Linked DNA regions of Homo sapiens. The protein of the gene in region 1 purifies or fractionates together with the protein of each later gene. This does not show direct contact. Each region holds a gene or a part of one and is shown in the gene's direction. Other genes may lie near its edges.

Region 1 (3,931 bases):
AACTGTTCAGGTACCACCTGTCCCCAGCGGCGCTTGGCCAGCTCTGAGAGTGTTCTGGACAGAGCCAAGGGCCCGGCTCATTGCCCAGTCTCAGCCCCAGCCTCCTCTGAGGGGAGGACCCCAGGCCTGTGAAAAGTAGAAGCCTGTGGGTGCACATTGGGTGAGAGGCGGTGAAGGGGGCTGAGGGGGAGGATCCGCAGCCCAGGGCTGCTCAGCTAGTTCCAGAAAGAGAGAACTTTGTGTGCACAACCAGTCTTTCTTTTCACAATCATATTTTAACAGTTTATGTAAAGAATAATTAAATTATATAATTGCAAGAGCAGGTATAACTGGCATAAGCAAGTTTGGGAACAAATTAAACGGACTCATGGCAGCATGCAGCCCACCCAGCGAGGGGGCAAAGTGCAGATGTCTTGGTGATGGCCTCTCTGCCGGAGGGCCCGGTCGGCAGCTTTCACAGAAGGAAGGGAGAATGAGGCCTCAGCTGTCACATGGAGGTCAATTGGCAGAACCTGTGCCGGTGACAGCTCCTATTTCCTGAGTCCTTGCTGTGTACGCAGTAAGCCAGACTCCTTACACGCTCTCTTATGTAATCTTCACGACAGCCCCCTAAGGTGGATGCTATTTTCTCCATATTATAAGAAATCAAGTGTGGGACGCCACCTGGCTAAGACCCCTGCTCTGCCCCTGGCCTGGCCTCTCCACTTCATCAGGGACTGTCTGAGCACTTGGCTGGGTGATCTGCCTCCCCACCCAGCCCCCCAGTTCTCCCCAGGCCTTTACCTCCACTGGCCACATTCTCAGCAGACTCAGTGTTGTGCGTGTCTCCAGCTCCCACTCCATGCTCCAGGACACAGGACTGTGCCTGGGATTCAGAGGAAGCCAGGCCGCCTCTTTCCAGGAACGGCTTATGTGACACCAAGGCATGCAGGCCCTGGAGGCTGTCATCTGTACCCCTCATTAGCAGCCTCGGGCTATTAGACAGCCCTGCAAGTGCCCGCCAAGCCTGAGTCACCGTGACGGCTTCTGGTATTTACATGTCCCCAAGGCCCCTGGCATCTGTTCACTCTCATCCTGTGTCCTCGCTCCTGACATCCCAGCGGGCTGGAAGAAACCAGGATTGTTATTTTATTAGAGGGAAACCGAGGCACAGGGAAATGAAATACTAGAGTCTGCCTGCGGAGCAGCAGGGCCAGGCCGAGCATGTCTAGGAGTCCATGTGTCCCAGTGGGGTGGCTCTCGTGGGACCTTTCTGGCCTAGTTTATTCTAAATCCGTTACTTCCCAACCTGTGTTCTGCAGAACGTGGTACAGTGGGGTGGTCAAAGGCTATCTTCAAAGGGGCTCTGTGGCTGATGAATTGGGGAAATGCCACAAAAAGCAGGGCTCGTAGTGCGCGGGCCAGCACCACATGGCACTTCACGTTCTCATTCATCCCTGGGCCCCCCACTCTGTGGTGCCCCTTAGCATCCCGCAGAGCGCTTGGGGAGTCCCTGCTCAAAAAGTGTGGGTCCCGCACCCCCACCTTCACTTTAGCAGACATCTGCTAATGAAAGGATTAACTGCTTTTCTTTTTTTTAAATTCAGACAAATTCAAAAAGAGCCGTAACACTGGGATTAGCTTCTTGAGAGCAGGAACCACATTCATTCTTTGTGTCTGCCCTGTGACTATCCAGGGAGTAGTTGGACTTCCTCATAATAAAGAATGTTCTGATAGCCATTCATTCATTCATGCTTTCACCCCTTCGTTCATTCTGTCACTAGCCTCAGCCACCCTGAGGCCGCGTGGGGTGTACACTGAGCGGGTCGAGGCTAAGAAGGCTTTGTTCCTTCTGGCTGTGCAGCCACACCAGGGCAGGGCCTCTAGTCTAGATGTTTAGGTGAGTCTTGTCTTCCGCAGGAACCCAGGGAGAAGGAATGGGGCCAGGGTCTTAGAGCTCCCTTACCCCCCACTGGTTGACCTCACACCAGCTGGGCCTGGAGGAGAAAAGAGCTGGACCTTGCGCTAGTGAGAGCTAGTCCTAGTCATGACTCAGAAATAGGGTGCTTGGAAAAGGGGTGCCTTGCAGCCTCCTGTGTCCCAAGAGCAGCTATGCTGCCTCCCACCGTGGCTGACCACCCGTGTACACCACCCACCTGGGAGCAAATCCAGCTGCTGATTAGTTCCAAAGAGTCACTGCTTTGCCAAGCAGGCTAATCCTGAAATCTGACATAAGCCTCTAGCGGCTGCTTTATTTTCCAAAGGGCCCCTATTTGAGGATAATTCAGTCCCTTTGAGCTTTTCCCAGGTACCCTCAGCCTTCAATGGAGGCTGCATCATGCCAGTGGAGCTGGCACCTGCCCTGGGGGAGTCAAGGAAGGGCTGCCACTTGGAGGGAGCTCCGGAACATCTGACCTGAGGTGGCCAGGAGCAGACTGGCCATGAGTGACACCTCCTGAAATCACCTCTACCCCAAGACAGCTGGTCTGTCTATGAAGGCCCGGCTTGGGCCAGTCCCTCTGGGTTTGTTCAAGAAGGACACCTTTTATTCATTTCTCTGCCATCCAAACAGACTCTGAATTCTCTCTCTGGGGTTTGTGCCCCATCACAGGAGGTTGAGCCAGGAAGCAGGCAGGGTGTCCGGAGCTCCTTCCACAGCTGGCTCCAGGCAGGCATCCACCCCTGGGGGTGCTGTGCTGGACACCTCCATACTCACACAGGCTCTCTGGTAGTGCCAGGAGTTGTCCTGATCAGAGGTATCGCCTCTCTATCCCCACCCCTGCCCGGCCCTGCCCCAGGGCAAGAAGCCGCTGCTCATGAGCCTGCCTGGTTCTTCCTGTTCATTCTCATTCCCACCTCCAGACCTCTGCTGTCTGCTCCCTTCTTCAGAATTCTCTCCCCTATTCATGCCAGGCTCACCCTTCTGAAAAGACCCACCTTCCCAGGAGGCCTTCCCAGCCTGCTCTGGCCCAAGGGCTCACTCCCTTCTCTGGACTTCAACACCTTCTTTCCAGGCCTTTGCAATTATGTGGCCCCTGTCTGACTGGGCTGGGGGGTGTCCCTCATTGTAGGTGGAGGCACTGCTTTTCTGTGTCTTATGCCCACTTGCTCAGCCCCTGTGGCTGTCAGTAGACATCAGTACATACAGCCTTCCTGTACATTTGGAAACTACTTTCCTTGTGTTGTCTTATTTGATCCTTGTAAGAATCCCTGTGAGGATGGTAGAGCAAGTACAATCCCACTTTATAGAAGAGACTGAGGACCAGGGAGGAGGAGTGGCCTGAGGCTGCCTGATGGAGGAGTTGCAGGGTGAGGAACGGAAGCCAGTTCTCCTCCTGCAGTGCTGTGCTTCTGTGTACAGTTCCGTGCAGCAGTGCCAGTGACACTGTTACTCCTGCTTGTAGATGAGGAAGCCGAAGCTTGTAGAGACCAAGTGGGTGCTACAGGTCTTCTGCCTTCACTCACCTGATTCCAGCATGGCTGAGCGATAGACGTAGAGATGCCCGTTAGCACAAGGGAAAACCTCGCCGTGACACTGGAGTCTAGGTGCCCCAGCCAGGGGAACACACCCCAGAGAACCAGCCACATGCAGGCCAAGTCCTGTTCATCCTCACACTAGCTGTGGGTCTCAGGGCAAGGCCCTTTGCCTCTCTGCACCTCAGTATTCTCAGCTGTAAAACGGGGCTAATCTCTGCGACCACACAGTGTTTGGAGATTATTGAATGGGTTAATGAATGTGGAAATGTCTGGCCATCACGGGTGTTCAGCACAGAGCTGAGTGGGTGGAATGGATTGAATGAGTCTTCCACTGTGCATCTGGTCTCCAGAAATCAAGTTCTGGAGAATCAGTGGCCTGGCCTGTTTCTTGCCCTCAGTACCCAGGGATGGTCCTGAGTGACCGTAACACTGCCAGGGCTTTTTGCCCACCCACCAGTGGGAGATTAGAGGTCTG
Region 2 (3,931 bases), on another chromosome or scaffold:
AAAAAATATTTACCAGAAGCCCAAACCTCACCATAATCCTGATTTTTTTTCTCCTTTTTCTTAATTATGTTTGCCAGTGTTTGTCTATTTTATTAGTCTTTGCATAGACCATCTATTAACGTTGTTCTGAATTTCTCATTAAGGTGTGTAACTTTTACTCCTTGTGTAATCAGCAGATACCTAACATTCTCTATTTCTCCTTCTAGAAATGTGATACCTCAAAGCACAAAGTGCTGGTAGTGTCTGTGTGTCCTCAATCTTTGCCTTATTTTGCTGCTAAATTCAACCTCAGTGTAACTGATGCATCCAGAAGACTCTGTGGTTTCCTCAAAAGTCTTGGTGAGTCATCTTTTGATAAATTGGGAATGTATAACTTGAGTTTATAAGCGCCCTTTTTAATCTCTAAAGTTCGTTTTTCAAGGACGCAGGGTAGATAAGCAACTTCCAAAAGAGTCTCTTGGAACGTAAAAAGACCATGTCCCGTGTGTCATGAAACCCAGCCTCTGATCGATGGTAGACGAGTGTCACTTTTCTCCTTTGCTGTGCACAGACAGGTGTTTTGTTACACAGTGGGAGCTGACCCCTCTGGGACCAAACAGTGACCACCTTCTGACAACACGGACAGGACACTGGGAGATTCCCACACTGGCCCAGCAACCTCCAAGTCACCCCTTACCCCCAGAGGGTGTGCATTTGATAAACAGTCACTTCTGAAATGATTAGTATCTGGTTTCCCAAGAAGCTCTCTGAAGAGCAGAGCAGAAAGGGAATGGGCTTGTGTTCTTTACTTGAGGAATGAAAGGTAGAAATTTAAGAATATAATAAAAGAACTCGGATGTCAACGCTGGAATAGTACTACCTGAAATGTTGATGGATGATGCTTCTGCGTCTTCTGCTTTGGTCAAAGGGGAACTGCCTCCCTCCATTTGCTTATAGAGGGGCTTTTACAGCCTTGAGCATCCTCATAGCATGATGGTCAGTGTGCAAGTTCAGAAAGGGAAAATGAGCGAGTTGCCAAATAAGAGGTTTTTTTTGTTGTTTGTTTGTTTGTTTGTTTGTTTTTTGAGCTGGAGTCTCGCTCTTGGTGCCCCAGGCTGGAGTGCAATGATGCGATCTTGGCTCACTGCAACCTCCGCCTCCCGGGTTCAAGAGATTCTCCTGCCTCAGCCTCCCAAGTAGCTGGGACTACAGGTGCGCGCCACCACTCCCGGCTAATTTTTGTATTTTTAGTAGAGATGATGTTTCACCATGTTGGCCAGGATGGTCTTAATCTCTTGACCTCGTGATCCACCCGCCTTGGCCTCCCAAAGTGCTGGGATTACAGGCATGTGCCACCGTGCCTGGCCAAGAGTTTTTATTATTCTACAGCGGCTTTTAAAAATTATAAATATTGGTCAGGTTTGGTGGCTCATGCCTGTAATCCCAGCACTTTGGAAGGCCAAGACCAGAAGATTACTTGAGGCCAGGAGCTCGAGACCAGCCTCGACAACATAACAAGATCCTATCTCTGCTAAATAAGTACATAAATGTAGATATATTGGGGATTACTGGTGAAATAAAATGATATTTGGAATAAGGATCATCAGGACAGGCTTGAAGTCTAAGCAGCAGCCTGGGGGTCCTGATGCTCCCTGTGCCCTAGGCGCCTGGGCTCTAACAAGACCTGGTCATCTAGCACATAATGTGCTGCAGCTGAAACCCAGCTACAGCGACAGGTGCCCACACGTTAGGTCGCTCCTTCATGCTTGTCATCATAAAGCCTCGGGTTAGGTTAGTTACACTGAAGATCAGAGTTGTCAAATGCTATATATTCTCACGATGAAAGCCCTTATTTGGGGCTAGATTCTTAAAATGATGTAACGGAATGTTATATATCAATAAAATGTATCCACAGTAAAATGGATTTCTTAATGTAATATTTTAAAATTTATAATATTTCTTTTTTTGTTGTTCTTGAGACGGAGTCTTGATCTGTCACCCAGGCTGGGGTGCAGTGGCGCCATCTCGGCTCACTGCAAGCTCCACCTCCCGGGTTCACACCATTCTCCTGCCTCAGCCTCCCGAGTGGCTGGGACTACAGGCGCCCGCCACCACGCCCGGCTAATTTTTTGTATTTTTAGTAAAGATGGGGTTTCACCATGTTAGCCAGGATGGTCTCGATCTCCTGACCTCATGATCTAACCGCCTTGGACTCCCAAAGTACTGGGATTCCAGGGGTGAGCCACCGTGCCCAGCCTAATATTTATTATAGCTAGTTGCATTTTCTCTCAGCTTTGTTACCTGGGGAGGGGGAGAAACAAAAAATTTAAAATTAAAAAAATCAGGCCGGGTGTGGTGGCTCATGTCTGTAATCCCAGCACTTTGGGAGGCCGAGGGGGCAGATCACCTGAGGTCAGGAGTTTGAGACCAGCCTGGCCCAACATGGCAAAACCCCATCTCCACTAAAAATACAAAAATTAGCCTGGCATGGTGGCAGACACCTGTAATCCCAGCTACTCGGGAGGCTGAGGCACAAGAATCGCTCAGACCCAGGAAGCAGAGGTTTGCGGTGAGTTGAGATTGCGTCACCACACTCCAGCCTGGGTGACAGAGCATGACTGTCTGAAAAAAAAAAAAGGCTGGGCATGTTGGCTCACGCCTGTAATCCCAGCACTTTGGGAGGCCGAGGTGGGCGGATCACGAGGTCAGGAGATTGAGACCATCCTGGCTAACGCAGTGAAACTCTGTCTCTACTAAAAATTCAAAAAAGTAGCCGGGCGTGGTGACGGGCGCCTGTAGTCCCAGCTACTTGGGAGGCCGAAGCAGGAGAATGGTGTGAACCTGGGAGGCGGAGCTTGCAGTGAGCCGAGATCACGCCACTGCACTCCAGCCTGGGCAACAGGGCGAGACACTGTCTCAAAAAAAAAAAAAAAAATTCAGTATAAAAATTTAAGCCATTATAAAAGTATGCCCTTGCCGGGCGCGGTGGCTCACGCCTGTAATCCCAGCACTTTGGGAGGCCGAGGCGGGCGGATCACGAGGTCAGGAGATCGAGACCATCCTGGCTAACACGGTGAAACCCCATCTCTACTAAAAATACAAAAAATTAGCCGGGCGTGGTGGTGGGCGCCTGTAGTCCCAGCTACTCGGGAGGCTGAGGCAGGAGAATGGCATGAACCCAAGAGGCGGAGCTTGCAGTGAGCCGGGATAGCGCCACTGCAGTCCAGCTTGCGCGAAAGAGTGAGACTCCGTCTCAAAAAAAAAAAAAAAAGTATGCCCAGCCATTCTATACTTTTACTGTACGTTCTACTTTTAAACACATCAAGAACCATCACAGACTGAAATTTAATTTGCCTGTGAATTGGAAGGGAATGCTGTGGGTACGTTGTAATATTTCATTAATTTATATATGGAGTAAGGTGTTTTAAAATGTAGAGAGGGAAGAAGCATGAGAGAGAACATACATATTTCATTGTGAAAAATCATACACGCTCATTGTTTACAAAATAAAAGGTAAAGCACACGGTCTTGAACTTAGGCCGTTAGGAATAGATAAGAACCAAGACTGATTTTATTATCTTAGGAGGGATGCCTGTAGAATCTATGCTTTAAGTTTGTCTCTTAAACGTGAGAAAGCAAAAATGAGTAAGAATGAAGAAGTATTGGCTGGATGCAGTGGTTCACGCCTGTAATTCCAGCACTCTGGGAGGCCAAGGTGGGTAGATCACTTGAGGCTAGGAATTCAAGACCAGCCTGGCCAACATGGTGAAACCTCATCTCTACTAAAAAATACAAAAATTGGCCAGGCATGATGGCGGGCACCTGTAATCCCAGTTACTCGGGAGACTGAGGTGGGAGGATCACTTGAACCTGGGAGGCGGAGGTTGCAGTGAGCCGAGATTATGCCACTGCACTCTAGCCTGGGTGACAGAACGAGACTCCGTCTCAAAAA
Region 3 (3,931 bases), on another chromosome or scaffold:
TGGAAAAGAATGACCCCAGAAAGTTGATTTAAAACTAATAAAGCTGTTTATTATCATTAATGATAATTTCTGTATAATTGTCACGGAGAGCTTATGCATGAATCTGTAACTTGTCGTTATTATGGTCTTCACTAGAAATTGCATGTCTTTTTTAATTTCTGAAATAAATTATTGGGATGAAGAGCACTGTCAGTTTTTGTATTAAAGTGTTTCAGTAGAGCGTGGCCGAATATTTGACATGATGAATCTGAATGAAATGATCAGAGCTATGTGAGGAATATGGTTCTACGCTGGATGTTTTGTGGACAAAACAGAAAAAAAATCCCAGCCTAGAAGCATTATTGAAATTGCATCGAGGAAAAACTATAATCTGGGGGTCATACTGTCACTCTGAGAGAACTACTATGTTCTGTCTCGCTTTCTCATCAGAGGAAATCCTTGTACCAGTACCACTCAAATTCTCTGTTCTCCGACTCCTGGCTTCAAGCGATTCTGCCTCAGCATCCCAAGTAGCTGGGATTACAGGCACATGCCACCACACCCAGCAAATTCTCCATTCTATACAACTTTTTTTTTTTTTTTTTTTTTTTGAGACAGAGTCTCGCTCTGTTGCCCAGGCTGGAGTGCAGTGGTGTGATCTCGGCTCACTGCAACCACCGCCTCCCAGGTTCTCCTGCCTCAGTCTCCCAAGTAGCTTGGATTACAGGCATGTGCCACCACACCTGGCTGATTTTGTATATTTAGTAGAGATGGGGTCTCACCATGTTGGTCAGGCTGGTCTTGAACTCCTGACCTCAGGTGATCCGCCCACCTTGGCCTCTCAAAGTGCTGGGATTACAGGCATGAGCCACGGTGCCCGGCCTTTTTTTTTTTTTTTTTTTTTTGTATTTTTAGTAGAAACGGGATTTCACTATGTTGGCCAGGCTGGTCTCAAACTCCTGACCTCAAGTGATCCGCCTGCGTCAGCCTCCCAAAGTGCTAGGATTACAGGCATGAGCCACCATGCCTGGCCCTATACAACTTTTCAAATTCTCTCTCTCTTTTTTTTTTTTTTTTTGAGATGGAGTCTCACTGTGTCGCCCAGGCTAGAATGCAGTGGTGTTATCTTAGCTCACTGCAACCTCTGCCTCCTGGGTTGGAGCAATTCTCCTGCCTCAGCCTCCTGAGTAGCTGGGATTACAGGTGTGCACCACCATGCCTGCTTAATTTTTGTATTTTTAGTAGAGACAGGGTTTCGCCATGTTGGCCAGGCTGGTCTTGAACTCCTGACCTCAGGTGATCCACCCACCTCGGCCTCTCAGAGTGCTGAGATTATAGGTGGGAGCCACTGCACCTGGCCAATTCTCTCTTATTTATTTATTTATTTTTTTTGAGACAGAGTCTCACTCTGTCACCCAGGCTGGAATGCAGTGGGCATGATCTCGGCTCACTGCAACCTCCGCCTCCTAGGTTCAAGCGATTTTCCTGCCTCAGGCTCCCAAATAGCTGGGACTACTGGCTGGCGCCACCACGTTCAGCTGATTTTTGTATTTTTAGTAGAGTCAGGGCTTTGCCATGTTGGCCAGGCTGGTCTCGAACTCCTGACTTAAGGTGATCTGACCGCCTTGGCCTCCCAAAGTGCTGAGATTGTAGGCATGATCCACTGCACTGGCCTCTCAAATTTTCTTTATTTCCTTTGATTTAATTCCTGGGCGAGGATCCTCTGCCTTGCACGTGTGGTTTTGTGCTGCATTGGCTTTGGAATCAGTAACCAATCCCTGTCCTCGTACTCCTTGCCGACTCAGGAAAAATGGAAATTAACAAGAGCTATAAAGTAATACAGAAAGGGACAGTGCTCCCATCTATGATTAAGTGCACGCAACTAATTCATACTTAAGGTTTTTTTGTCTCCTTCCCTTGCTCTATTTAAATTGCTGATTCTCTCACACCTGATGACTCTTCTCTCAAATGCCCATCCTTGATATTTCCTCGAAGTTTTGTGCACCGAGGGCGGCCTGAGCCTCTGGATCTTCACTTGGGCATGTTCCTGCCCACCTTGCTTCACCAGGCAACTGCGGAGCAGCAGGAGCGCTTCTTCATGCCCGCCTGGAACTTGGAGATCATTGGCACTTATGCCCAGACAGAGATGGGTCATGGTATGGAGTATTCAGTCTACCTTCTGGGTTGGGCGGGCCCCTGTGAGCTTACCATGTGTGGAGTGCCCACCATGTGCCATCGATGGTGTGTCGATGTTCTATGGTCTGTTTAAATGAGCTCTTTCTGCAGAGTCCAGGTTTTGGTATAAACACTGCTTTGGTGAGTGGGAATTAAAGACCATGATACTGATAAAATGATTGTCCTTTTTATACCATAGTTCCCCTTCAGAGGGTCAAGAATTGCAAATCAGGCCTTATTTACCAAGTGGTTTTTCAATGTTACTGAGGTTGTATAGAATCTGTGTGCATATACAACCCGAAGCTGTTTTTTTCTTCATTACTATCTGATTACCTTTACTACTGATACCTTAATGAGTACAAATTCCAGAAGAAATACAAATAATAGTTTGTGTACTCTTGGATTTGCTTGAGGGAAATGAGTAGCTTATAACTGACGTGTGTGACATTTTGGAGTTATTTGTACTTTGAGTCAATCAGTAGTTCTGCAAGTGACTTGGCTGGAGAGTGAAAAAACCAAGATAAGCCGAACTTGCAGGCATTTGGTTTCAGACTCTGTATCTCCACCTTTCATTGATCTTTCCACCCCCCACCTGCTTTCTTCATGCACCTGGGTGGGCTGGAGGTGGCCGCTGTTCCTCTTTGTATCTTCTCTGAATTGGGTCCGTGTTTGCCATTCATTTGCTTATGGCTTCTCTTTTTCTGCTCTGACGTTTCAGAAAAACTGGTCTAGTGTGTATTTGCCACTTGCTCCTTATTTCTATACAGCTGCTGCTTTTTATTTGGTGTTGAATAGTATTTTACAGGATTTTCATGAGACTCCAAGTGGAATACTATTTGTTTCAGTTGTGCTTTTGAAAACATTTTGTCCTTATCTGTTCTGTTTAATGTTATCTGCTTTTCTGTAAAAGCTGCTTCTTTGATGAAAGATGTCTGTGTCTGATTTGTTGACTCCCACTCGGGAAAGTTGTGGATTGCACATAAGTTGGTTATTCAACTTGGAAGCTTCTAAATGTTTCAAAGTGTGTTTAATGAGGTCTAAGCGTTATGAAAGCAGATTGGTAAAAGGTTCCCAACGTTTGCTTTAGTACAGTATTTTTGTAGAGACTGCCACCTAGAACATTTTTCTATGACTCTTTTCAAATAATTTTGATATATTTGTGTTAAGATTTAAAACATAAGATCCTGTCTATCCCAGTACACATAAGAAACTGGAAACTCTTCCTTGCCACATTAATGAACCAGCAGGACTAAGTTAGGCCTGCCATTGGAAATCTCTAGGGTCAACTGAGACCTTATTATTGGACCTTTAGGAATTTTTAAAAGTCACATTTCAGGTCATTTCCCCAATAACAGTTATACTTTTATACTTTTTTTTTTTTTTTTTTTGAGACGGAGTCGTGCTCTGTCGCCCAGGCTGGAGTGCAGTGGCGCGATCTCAGCTCACTGCAAGCTCCACCTTCCGGGTTCACGCCATTCTCCTGCCTCAGCCTCCCGAGTAGCTGGGACTACAGGCACCCACCACCATGCCCAGCTAATTTTTTGTATTTTTAGTAGAGACGGGGTTTCGCCGTGTTAACCAGGATGGTCTCGATCTCCTGACTTTGTGATCCGCCCGCCTTGGCCCCCCAAAGTGCTGGGATTACAGGCGTGAGCCACCGTGCCCAGCTTTAATTTTTTTGTTGTTTTTTTAGTAGAGACGGGGTTTCACCACTTTAGCCAGGATGGTCTCAATCTCCTGACCTCGTGATCCCCCCACCTCGGCCTCCCAAAGTGCT
Region 4 (3,745 bases), on another chromosome or scaffold:
GAAGAGCAAAAGGAAGCCAAAAGGCGCGACAGGAAGTCCCAAGAGGAAAAGCAGTTGCTGAGAGAGGAAAGAGAAGAGAAGAGACGCCGTCAAGAGACAGACAGAAAATTCCGCGAGGAGGAACAGCTGCTCCAGGAAAGGGAGGAACAGCCGCTGCGCCGCCAAGAGCGTGACAGAAAATTCCGCGAAGAGGAACTGCGCCATCAGGAACAAGGGAGAAAATTCCTCGAGGAGGAACAGCGGCTGCGCCGCCAGGAACGGGAGAGAAAATTCCTTAAGGAGGAACAGCAGCTGCGCTGCCAGGAGCGCGAGCAACAGCTGCGTCAGGACCGCGACAGAAAATTCCGCGAGGAGGAACAGCAGCTGAGCCGCCAAGAGCGTGACAGAAAATTCCGTGAAGAGGAACAGCAGGTGCGCCGCCAGGAACGAGAGAGAAAATTCCTGGAGGAGGAACAGCAGCTGCGCCAGGAGCGTCACAGAAAATTCCGCGAAGAGGAACAGCTGCTCCAGGAAAGGGAAGAACAGCAGCTGCACCGCCAAGAGCGTGACAGAAAATTCCTGGAGGAGGAACAACAGCTGCGCCGCCAAGAGCGTGACAGAAAATTCCGCGAACAGGAACTGCGCAGTCAGGAACCAGAGAGAAAATTCCTCGAGGAGGAACAGCAGCTGCACCGCCAGCAACGGCAGAGAAAATTCCTCCAGGAGGAACAGCAGCTGCGCCGCCAGGAGCGCGGGCAACAGCGGCGTCAGGACCGTGACAGAAAATTCCGCGAGGAGGAACAGCTGCGCCAGGAGAGGGAGGAACAGCAGCTGAGCCGCCAAGAGCGTGACAGAAAATTCCGTTTAGAGGAACAGAAAGTGCGCCGCCAGGAACAAGAGAGAAAATTCATGGAGGACGAACAGCAGCTGCGCCGCCAGGAGGGCCAACAACAGCTGCGCCAGGAGCGCGACAGAAAATTCCGCGAAGACGAACAGCTGCTCCAGGAAAGGGAAGAACAGCAGCTGCACCGCCAAGAGCGTGACAGAAAATTCCTCGAGGAGGAACCGCAGCTGCGCCGCCAGGAGCGCGAACAACAGCTGCGTCACGACCGCGACAGAAAATTCCGTGAAGAGGAACAGCTGCTCCAGGAAGGGGAGGAACAGCAGCTGCGCCGCCAAGAGCGTGACAGAAAATTCCGCGAAGAGGAACAGCAGCTCCGCCGTCAGGAACGAGAGAGAAAATTCCTCCAGGAGGAACAGCAGCTGCGCCGCCAGGAACTGGAGAGAAAATTCCGTGAGGAGGAACAGCTGCGCCAAGAAACGGAGCAAGAGCAGCTGCGCCGCCAAGAACGCTACAGAAAAATCCTAGAGGAAGAGCAGCTCCGTCCGGAAAGGGAAGAACAGCAGCTGCGCCGCCAGGAGCGCGACAGAAAATTCCGCGAGGAGGAACAGCTCCGCCAGGAGAGGGAGGAACAGCAGCTGCGCAGCCAAGAGTCTGACAGAAAATTCCGCGAGGAGGAACAGCTACGCCAGGAGAGGGAAGAACAGCAGCTGCGCCCCCAACAGCGTGACGGAAAGTATCGCTGGGAAGAAGAGCAGCTCCAACTTGAGGAACAAGAGCAGAGGCTGCGGCAGGAGCGAGACCGGCAGTACCGGGCGGAGGAGCAGTTTGCCACGCAGGAGAAGAGTCGTCGTGAGGAACAAGAACTATGGCAAGAAGAGGAGCAGAAACGTCGCCAGGAACGGGAAAGGAAATTACGGGAAGAACACATCCGCCGCCAGCAGAAGGAGGAACAGAGGCACCGCCAAGTCGGGGAGATAAAATCCCAAGAAGGGAAGGGCCATGGGCGGCTTCTGGAGCCCGGCACTCATCAGTTTGCCAGTGTCCCAGTGCGCTCCAGCCCTCTCTATGAGTACATCCAAGAGCAGAGATCTCAATACCGCCCTTAAGTGATGTTGCCAATATCTTGACACCTGCCAAAGCTTCGAGCACGGGAAAATGAGAAACACTGGGTACCAAGTGATAACTCAGATGTTTCTGGTTGTGGGAAAACTCTCTGATATTAGAATGTCTTTTCTTCCAAAATCTTAAACTACGCTCATTTTACGCACTTTGTACTTCTGCTTTTTATTCTTCCTCAAGTAGTTCTTTACTGCAAGATGTCTTTCTTTTGCTCTTTGATGCAGATGTGGTGTGCATTTAAAAAAAATATAAATCATTTAATTTGTTTAAGAAATTTTGTTTGAGGAACATGTTCATTTATTGCTTTCAGAAGTAACAAGAGTAATAGGATGATTTGAGATTCTAAACAATGGGTCGGTTTGTTTAATGACTGACCCATCTTGTGGAAAGTGCAGATACTTTTAATGTTCAAGTTGCTATTTCTTCTTGAACCTAAATTGATCATTGCCTCCAAACAGCATTTCATCTTTTGTGGCATAGTTAGCACAAATTCCAGGTAACTAAATTTTTATAACCCTTGAATAGTGCAGGGGGAGTGACCTCTGCATAAAAACTTCCTGTAAAATCAGCCCATTACTGGAAGAAATATCTGTTAAGAATAGGTTTAGCTTTGAAGATTTAGAATTTAAATTAGATTTTTTTTAAACTCAACTCCACTTAAACACATAATCTCATGAAGAAATAATGAGGTGTTTCTCAACTTCAGAGTTCAAATTTTAAAACTGTGTCTGTTGTAGTCTATAGTGTTCATTCTACTTCCCCAAGTTTTGATGAGTTTCAGAATATTATGAACCTTTGTTAATTTTAGCTTGTTAGAAGGAAGCTGCTCAGAATCCCATAAACATCTGTCTTACTCTAGGGCCAATAAGAGATCACATAGAGCATGTTGGGGGTGTAAAAGGGAAAAATGTGTGAACATAGGGGCAAATTTCTAGAGGCCCTTTGACAAGACCCATTTGCCCACAATCATTTGAGGCCTATTGATAATACCTTAGATATATTCTTGTTGAAATAATTGGACTGTGAAAAATTAATAATAAATGTTTGGCAAGTAACTACTTTTGTCTGTTTTAACTCTGCGTCAATCATAACAAGATCTCATTGTCTGGAAACTAACACAAGTTCCCAATCACATAAGGGCATTTTGTTACTTATCTATGTCCAAATACGAAAAAAGAGGGGAGAGAATTCTTTGTTTTTCCCCAACCTTTTTTTTTTTTTTTTTTTTTTTTTTTTTTGCAGTTAGGCTGAACTCTATTTCCATCCCCACACTGAGATTGCCTTCCAGAGTGTTTTTGTTCTTGACCCCACAGCTTTCTATGCCATTTCTTGCAGCGACTCACTGGTCATGACAAATACTGGTGCTCCCAATATTTGTTAATATTTCCTTTAGAGAATGCAGCAGCTTCTTAGTCTCTGATGTCTGATGAGCCAATGATAGAAAATGGCCTGAAACTTCAGATCAGCACTATAAAAACTGTAGATGTCCTGTTAATTTAAGCAACATAATCCATGAGGTGACTGAGTCAGAAGGTACTTAATAGTAATCAGGCTGAAGTATCAAATTATTATCTTGTTAGATAATAATTTATTAGATAATAACAAACACGCCTGTGCTGCCTGCTGGATTCTTATTTTTAGTATTCATAGTTTACTAACTAGAAATAAGCCCAAGAAGGCCCTGATCAAAACAATGTCATTTCTAAGATCATGATGAGAAGATGCCCTAAAGTTATAGTCACTCAACATTTTGATCAGTGGTGGAGACAAGCTAGGCTTATGGCTCCTGAGTATCATTCTGAT

Evidence for each region. Proteins that work in one complex are often made in the same cells at the same time.
Region 2: the proteins of HS1BP3 (region 1) and NARF purify together in Homo sapiens (affinity purification with mass spectrometry; one large-scale study listed by BioGRID and IntAct). This does not show direct contact.
Region 3: the proteins of HS1BP3 (region 1) and ACOX1 purify together in Homo sapiens (affinity purification with mass spectrometry; one large-scale study listed by BioGRID and IntAct). This does not show direct contact.
Region 4: the proteins of HS1BP3 (region 1) and TCHH purify together in Homo sapiens (affinity purification with mass spectrometry; one large-scale study listed by BioGRID and IntAct). This does not show direct contact.

The regions. Positions count from the first base shown.
Region 1 is NC_000002.12:20,619,975-20,623,905, reverse strand, and holds part of HS1BP3 (HCLS1-binding protein 3), read left to right. Parts: coding exon 1-10; intron 11-1,586; coding exon of another isoform or gene 1,587-1,608; exon of another isoform or gene 1,609-1,719; intron 1,720-3,931. UniProt on the Homo sapiens protein: May be a modulator of IL-2 signaling.
Region 2 is NC_000017.11:82,468,558-82,472,488, forward strand, and holds part of NARF (nuclear prelamin A recognition factor), read left to right. Parts: intron 1-206; coding exon 207-339; intron 340-3,931.
Region 3 is NC_000017.11:75,958,419-75,962,349, reverse strand, and holds part of ACOX1 (peroxisomal acyl-coenzyme A oxidase 1), read left to right. Parts: intron 1-1,974; coding exon 1,975-2,135; intron 2,136-3,931. UniProt on the Homo sapiens protein: Involved in the initial and rate-limiting step of peroxisomal beta-oxidation of straight-chain saturated and unsaturated very-long-chain fatty acids.
Region 4 is NC_000001.11:152,105,569-152,109,313, reverse strand, and holds the end of TCHH (trichohyalin), read left to right. Parts: coding exon 1-1,929; 3' UTR 1,930-2,997; downstream 2,998-3,745. UniProt on the Homo sapiens protein: Intermediate filament-associated protein that associates in regular arrays with keratin intermediate filaments (KIF) of the inner root sheath cells of the hair follicle and the granular layer of the epidermis.